Regions from separate parts of the Homo sapiens genome. Here region 2 is reported to be linked to region 1. The links are microRNA targets in miRTarBase. Many come from high-throughput screens and were not tested one by one. Region 1 holds a microRNA gene; the other region holds the end of a gene's coding sequence.
Evidence for each region. The annotated mature microRNA hsa-miR-3181 reads AUCGGGCCCUCGGCGCCGG and lies in region 1 at 2,277-2,295, opposite strand. An mRNA with a match to its seed (bases 2 to 7 or 8) in the 3' UTR can be bound and repressed. Matches are read on the target gene's strand: a 7mer-m8 pairs with bases 2 to 8, a 7mer-A1 pairs with bases 2 to 7 and ends in A, and an 8mer does both.

Region 1 (4,066 bases):
GATCTCACAAAGACAGATCCAATTCAAGAGCTTTTTGCATCTCCAAAGATATCCTGCTTGTTCTAAAAACCACAGGAAGCTATTTAAATTAGAATAAAACTTACAATACTTAATTCTGCCCCTAATTATAAATGGCAAAGAGGTAGGAAGGTCAGCTTGAACACCAAAGAAAGAAGACATGTGGGCCTTTTTCCAAAAGCTTCTGGATAGCTAGAATGATCATCCTTTTAAAAGAGAACATCTCTCACTAAAAGACAAAGTTGTTATATTTCTAAACAGCTAAAGAATAGAGATACAGAGATTCCGTGGCCAGAAAAAAGACTGAGTCCGTTTTAATTTTCCTCAATGACTAATTTGTGTCACAAGTACACAGTCCCTAATACAAGTGGGATTTATAAGGTTAAAAAAAAAAAAGAAAAGAAGAGCCTCTCACATCTGCATATTCCCACTGGAACAAGGAATACTGCTGCCTCTCTAGTGTTAAACCTAGCCACTCCACTGCCAAACTGTGAATTCCCCAAGTCCTTCATTTTTATATTATCCAGTGCCCACACGAGAGCCTGGCATATGCTAGGCACTGAATACAGAGAAATGAATGAAAGACTCAAGTGGTAACAGTGAAAACAAAATTGCATTTCCTCCTCCTGTTTAAGGGATTAAACCAAGAGAAAGAGAAGAGAAAAAGACTCAGGAATTGGGAGTATTTAATGAATTTTGCCTAAAACTTCAGTAATTCTCTAGATAAAATGAAATCATGCTAAACCACTTCATTGTTATACATATAAGAAGAAACAAATACGGAAAATTTCACAATTACGAAACCAAGTTGTTTTGAGGTTTATTTGATACTAGCTTCCTACAGCCTCAACTAGCATGTATGATGCTTATAAATTCTGTACAACCAATGAAAAAAAAACTAATTTAAATCATAGTGTGAAAATCAGGAACAAAATACTAATAGTTTGATAAACAACATAACTATTCCTTTCTCTCTCCCTGTGTTGGAGACTTCCTTAAATCAAACAAAACCACAGTTTAGGTGTGCCAGACTATAAAAATCATTGCTGCTTAATGTTAGTTGTGCTTTATATAACAAGCCTTATCTGCTTCTCACAAAAGTTACCACCCAGAGGAAGGTTTATTTGCAAGAATACTATACAATTTTGCAGCAGAATATTAGAGAATGTTCTGGGTGTTACTTCAATAAGAATTTCCAGCAAATCATTTTCTCCTAATACTGTTCTAGTTCAAATCCACCTACTGCTCAGTGGGGAATGGGAGGCTAAATTCTTAAGGCCATTCAGTCTACTTGGGGCGTGAGGGGGTGTGTAGAAAGCCAACAATCAAACGAACACCCTCTCAAGGCCTGGGTGCTTCTCTGAGAGCCAATGATTGCAAAATGAACAATCTTATTAAGATCCCTAATTAGCCCGAATTCAAAAGCAAGGTAGGCATGCTCCTTAGCTGAGCTAAGGATAAAACTTTCCAGGAAAAATTGAGGAGAAGAAGGTGGCAGGGATGATGGGGGCTGGGAGACTGCAAGGCCACAGGCTTGGTGGCTGGAAGATGACAACTATCCTAAAACATTCAAATGCCAAGGGGTGGAAGAGAAACGATGCCAAGTACATGAATAACCGGCAGCTGACCCAGCTGAGTACCAAACTCAACACCATCTCCTGAAGATTTCATGACTTCGCCCCCGCCCCCCATTCGCCCCCCACCCCCCTCGATTGTTAACATGAAAGAAAAACATAAAGAAAGAATACCTGTCACAGCAGGGCGCACCTTTCAACTAAGGAACTCCGGGTGGCTGTGTAGAACCATCCTCACCCTAGAAAGGGGGAAACTGAAAGAAAAAGCAGAACACGCCATTAACAAGGCCAGAACCCCGACTGCCATTCCTGGACGGGAGCCACCAACACCCGCAAAATCGATCGGTACGTACGCCCCGCGGCGCGGTCGGTAGGAATCACAGCCCCGGGCTCCTGAGGCCAACCGTGGCCGTCGGGGCCCGCCAGCGGCCTGTGCCTCAGTCTCCCAATCTGTAAATGGGGTGGGGGGCGGGAGGGGGACAGCGTCCCGCGCGGCTCCCGCCCCAAGTCCTCTCTCCTCTGGGGGTCCCGATGGTGGCGACCCCGCACGCTCCCCGGACTCGCAGCCCTCCCGGGAAGCCTCGGGGGATGGGGAAGCCCCGGTGGGGGGGGGAAACCCGGGCTGACGTCAGCGGGCTCGGCAACCCGCGGGCCCGGCCGGCTCGGGCCCGGGCAACTAACGGGCCGGCGCCGAGGGCCCGATGGTCGCCGCGGCGGCTCCGGACGCCCTGAGGCCAGGCGGCTGCGCCGAGGGGATCCGGCCGCCCGCCGGCCGCCAGCCGCCCGCTCATTCACTAACCTCGGGCGGCGGGGCGTCGCCCCTCGCCCCGGCTCCCCAGCCCGCGTCCCGGGCCGGCCCCGGCTCCCCACACCCACCGCCCTAGTATTTACCTCCGACGCGCGGCCCCCGCGCAGCCAAACCTGCTACCTGGGCCCGCCCCCACCTGCCCCGCCTCCGAACCGCACAGGGAAGAGGGAGGGAGCGGGGGCGGAGGGGGCAGCCGCCGCGCTAGCCAATCGTAGGCCGAGCTGCGCTCCTGAGCGGGCCGTGATTGGGCCTCCCTGTGACAGACCTTCCTCCAATGGCTGCCAGCCCGGCGCCGGCCGAAGGGACTTTCCGCTCTGTCAAGCTCGGTGGAACCAAAGGGAAAGCGAAGGGGCGGGGCAGAGAAGAGCGGCGGATGGAGGCGGGAAGCTCAAGCTGATTGGGCGAAAGGCTGTGGGTGCCGCGTCACCATTGGCTGATGCTGGAGCCGGGGCGGGGCGCTGCGCTGCCACCAGCTCCGCCTCCCGTGCTCCCGCCTCAGCTGTCAAAACTGTAGACGCTTAGGTTTGGGCTGGGTTAAGAGTCCAGATGAAGGTTGAAATAGGATTCCAGGATGCCGTGAGAGAGCAAAGCTTTAGAATCAGACCTCAGTTTGAATCTTTGGCGCTTTCATTCAGTGGCTGCGTGACCTGAGGAAGTCACAACCACGCTGAGCCTCAATGTCCTCATCTGTAAAATGGAGATCATAGTATCGGTTGTCTTACAGGATTGTGGCAAAATACCGAGCTAAAGTTCCTGGCACGCAGTACCAGCTCAGGAAAGGTTCATCTCTTCCTCCTCCGCAGATTCAGCCTGGGACGCTTGCTGTTTCCGAACCTCTGTTGCCACCTATCCCAGTTTGGAGGGAATTTTCCCAAGGATGGTGAAGAAGGGATTTCCACACGCCGCCTCACTCAGCCCCGCACCCCTGGCCACCAGCCAGGACTTAGGGTGTAGTTAAGGATCTTTCAATTAGAAGGGAGGCTTCTGATTCCCAAAAGCACTCAAAATATTTAAGGAAGTGCTTTTTATAATCAGTCCTAGAGCCTTGCTGCACTGGATACTCCTGTTAATTAATTTCTTCTCCTTTGACATTTTAAGTGCTAATTATAGGAGAAGGTGATTAACACTGAGAAAGGAGGAGGGGTGTGTGTGTGTGTGTGTGTGTGTGTGTGTGTGTTTTTAATCATGACACAAATTTCCCCCAGTGGAAAGTGACATGTTTCTGGAGATCCAGGGAATTTAAACCAATGAATACATAAAAACAGTCACATGAGTGATGACTAACAGTAGCAGTAGACAGGCCACCACTCTTCCTTGCCATAGTCATCCAAAATGAAATGAGCATCTTTTGAAAACCTAAGCCTCATTCTACTCCTGTCCCTCTTTTGTCACTCCTATCTTCCTGTTTTCCAGGCTTCATGACCACACTGCTGTAGGAAGCCATAAGTTGGAAATCAACGGGCCTGGCTTGAAGTGTGGCCTTAGGCAACACCGTTCTCATCTACATCTGGATTCTCCAACAAAGCTGGTAGGACTCAGAGGTCACAGTCCAACTGTCTGGAAGAAAATTTCAGCTGAAATTTGTTTTTGCCTAACCCATACGATAAGGAGGAAGGAGAAAAGAATGTGAAGGAGAGAGATTTGGGGTCCTTTTAGGCAAGGCAAA
Region 2 (4,066 bases), not on the chromosome of region 1:
AATGTTTAGTAAAGATGTTTATTGTCCTAAGTTGATAGCTTTCTAAAATAATGACTCTAATACTTAAAATGTGGTATAAAGACCCTAAAATTATTTCAACAATTCAAGAGTCAGAACGGTATTTTTGGTTATGAGATTTTAAGAGTTTTAAAATTACTATGAACATATTACTCTACAAAAAGTCATAACTCTACTATAATTTTCAATAATTTATTAACAAATTCATCATTTCTACTGATTTAGCAAAGCCCTGGCCTTTCTGTGTACTTCAAGGGCTTTTAACTCACAGGTTTAAAACTAAGTTCTAGATAGTCCTAAGAATTCAGCATATAACAGGGGCCTGAGAGTGGGGAGCCCTCTGAGACTCTACCCTATTTTAACCAGAGTAGCTCCATCCTCATGTTTTACATATGGGACTTCTGAGAATCTTTTTAATAGCAGCAAATTTATTTGTATAAGGTTTTTGGCTATTTTAACTGCTAGAAATGAATAACCTTAAATTCTTTGTCTTTTTTATAATCTCTAGATTCCACAGGCCATAGAGATTTTCTTCTGAGAAGAATTTGTGTTTAATTTTTTGATACCAACACTGAACATTCATCAGGGAACTTTCCTGAAGTTCAGCTCAAGACTACCCTACCTGCTGTGTTTGTGAGAAGAGTAGGATCACACACACAGGTGCAATCTTGACCACACTTACCTGCAAGAGGAGTAACCAGAGGACACACTTCCTTCCTTCTTTGGTGTCTGAGGAGTGTGAACTGTTGGGGTCAGTTAAGACCCAACATAACTCTATCAGAAGAAAACTGTTGTTTGCCTTTCAACCTTGTTTTACAGTTCTGCAGTGTAATGGAGGACGGGCAACGTGCATGTGCAGGCTCACCACTCCCAGGCCTCTGACATGAGGGACATGTGACAGTGTCATTCAGTATTATGTTCAAAAGACATTTTTATCCTGATCATAATTAATTTGAAAACTCTTTAAGTTCATGTTATACAAGATGATTTACTGTATTATACTTTTCCTTTTTTATATAATGTCTAACAAAAAATACAGCTGCAACATTTTGATTCCTGTTAATTTTGTTCTTTAATTAAATGACTACTTATTGCAGGAAATTAACCCAGGCTTTACATTTTCTTGTGGTTGGGATGAGTGGTACTTTAGAACAGGGATCTGTGAAACAAGTCAATTTTTACTTGTGAACGATCAGAATCCAAACACATGAATGAGAATTCCAACTTTTTATGTGTTTGGTTTGTGCCTTAGAAAATCAAATTGAGTGCCTTTAACCAAGAAATAAGCAATAATTTGTTGAAAAATTCTATCAAAATGAAAAGTATGCCTCTTTAGAGTATTTTTAAGCTCACCTCTGCAAACACTGTTAAAGAAAGGAAATTTACCCCAGCACAAAGGTGAAAATCTTGGCACAAAGGGGGAAACTAACAATACATGTTCCCTGAAAAATATTTTTAATTGGCTTTCAAATAAGTGTCCTTACAGAGATGAGCCTTCCCTCCTCCTTCCCTCCTGGTATACTGGTGAGGCAGGAAGCACAGTAACTTGGAGCATGACTTTCAGAGCTTGCAGAACTTGTGCACAAATCCAAGCTCTGTGCTATTCAACAAGTTACTTGTTTTTTCTATAGTATGGTCATATCTCTCTCACACAACATTGCTGTAGTATCTAAATAAGACAAAGTAGCTAAAGTGCTGGCACATTGCTGAGGACGTTCTGGGAATCCAATAAATGTTAGCTACTGATATGGTTGCCAGGTAGCACCTGGAGCAACTGAGTGTCCTCTATGACTTCTTGCCACATATGCTACCTCATTGCTTTCCACTATTTTTCCTTTTCTACTTAAGACTGCTACTGGGTCAGACGCCCACAGAAACTGCCAAGTCTTTATGTTAGCACTTTGTCCAAAGTGACTTATGATCAGTCCTAGAGACTAGCAAAACACACTATTCATTGAATTATAGTTTTTTTTAATAAGAAATTGTTATGGTAGAAAAATTCCAGCTCTACCTCTTAGCTGCTCTGTAACCTTCTGTGAATCAGTTGACTTCTCTGAGCCTCAATTTGTTTGTGAAATGTATCTAAATCCTTTCTAATTAGAAGTCAGTTAAATTTAAAGGATTTGATATATATATATATATATACATTATATATTTTCTGTTATTCATAACCCATTATTTGTAGCCAAAACTTTACCTCTTTTCTATCTTAAGCAACATATTAGAAGCTCTCTGTATTTAATATTCAATTTAAAATATTAATGGGAGCCCAAATTATGTAAAACTAAGATTTCAATTTCCCTCACATAGAAATATTAATATATTTACTATGAAACAGAAAAGGAAAAGGTGCTACTGTTTAGAAACCACCTTGGCCCCCAAAGTACAAAAGATCAGTACTGCTTAACAAAAGAACCAGGCAGATCCTATAGTTAGAAATGACCTGGTTAGATGGGACATATATTTAGTTTTTTCCCCAAGTCCCATAACTAGTGGATAATAAAACTAAAAAGGTAAAGTGCAGGATAACCAAAGGAGGGTTTGGACTGGTTCAGACTCAAAGGTTCTAAGATATCCTAAAACCAGCAGACATATTCACTTAAATCAAAATTTGTGGCAATAGTATCTAACTTCTACCATTGTGTTTTTATTATGCACAAACTATTACTCTATACTTACATATTTCATGTTCTTATCAGGTATTATAAGGGTTAAGAGATAAACTAAAATTGAATCAAGTATATTTACTCTCCACCTGCACATCACAACTATCAAGTTAGAGGAATAAAATTAAAAAGCAATTCACAAGTCATATTACACTGATGACATACATGTATATGTACACGCATTTGCATATATTTATAATTTGAAGAGAAAGTTTATATACTTAACAGCCAACAGATTTAGAAAAAACTATTTGTCCTACTGAATAACAGTATATATGAATTATCAGAATTCTTCATTACTAGTATTCAATAATGAGCTTTTTATGCAATAAATTTACAAATCATTTGCCCCTATTTTCAGAAAAAATTATTAAAGCAACCATGAATATTTAAATCATAAGTTCTGTTTTTAAGGAGTTCAAAACATTTTTACAAGCATGTTAGTAATTTAGTGAGAGGAAATTAAATATCTTCTAGAAACATCTAGTAACTTTTAAGCTAATGTAATAGAGGAAATACTACATTATATGACTTTGTAAAAAGTATTTCTAAAAAAATTTAAAGGGGGCTGGGCATGGTGGCTCATGCCTGTAATCCCAGCACTTTGGGAGGCCGAGATGAGTGGATTGCTTTAGTCCAGGAGTTCGACACCAGCCTGGGCAACATAGCGAAACTCCATCTCTACAAAACAAAAAATTAGCTGGGCATGGTGGTATGCGCCTGTAGTCCCAGCTACTAGGGAGGCTGAGGTGGCAGGATCACTTGAGCCCGGGAGGTTAAGGCCATAGTGAGCCGTGATTGCACCACTGCACTCCAACCAGGGCAACAGAGCAAGACCCTGTCTCAAAAAATATAAAAATAAAATAAAGAGACTTTGAAATCATATCACCTAAGTAATTTTTTGACAATTGAAATGGTGGTGGGAGCGGGGAGGAAGAACCTAACATCAAGACATCCACCTTGTGGAAAGATATGGTAATTACAGGCCTACATTTATTATACATTGGAAGTAAAGTCAAAGTTTTTAGCTATGTACCTACAGTCCTTCAACAACAAATTCAAGCTCAGAAATGCAAAATCCTAATCGTACTATTAAAACTGCTATTACTATATGCTTCCGATACCCATTTGTCTAGTTTTTTTCCAGAGACCTTTTTCTCCATTTTTCATATGAAAACATCTCAGAAGATATTCGTAAGCAAGTGAACATATGAAACTGAATATATGAAAAATATTTTCAAAAAGTAGATTTCTATAAATCCCATTTGCTTATTTAGCTGCAAATTTATTTACAGTGATGATACTAGGAACATACTACTAGTTCAAACAAAAAATGTTTGTTCGAATGAACAACAGAAAGTACTGGTTAGCAGTTCCATAGT

Region 2: miRTarBase lists PHACTR3 as a target of hsa-miR-3181. The part of its 3' UTR that is shown has no 7-base or 8-base seed match.

Annotation. Positions count from the first base shown.
Region 1 is chr16:50,740,542-50,744,607 of GRCh38, reverse strand. MIR3181 (microRNA 3181) reads right to left here and starts at 2,303; the gene lies at 2,231-2,303. It overlaps CYLD (CYLD lysine 63 deubiquitinase), which reads right to left and starts at 2,522. Exons shown (of 19, transcript NM_001378743.1): 1 at 2,484-2,522; 2 at 1,767-1,846. It overlaps CYLD-AS1 (CYLD antisense RNA 1), which reads left to right and starts at 1,861. Exons shown (of 7, transcript NR_184279.1): 1 at 1,861-1,937; 2 at 3,204-3,280; 3 at 3,814-3,928. RefSeq lists an enhancer at 1,768-1,867 and a silencer at 2,108-2,707.
Region 2 is chr20:59,846,589-59,850,654 of GRCh38, forward strand. It overlaps PHACTR3 (phosphatase and actin regulator 3), which reads left to right. Exons shown (of 13, transcript NM_080672.5): 13 at 527-1,123. The coding sequence ends at 542. Among named protein-coding and RNA genes, the nearest start is that of SYCP2, 85 kb to the right of the region's middle.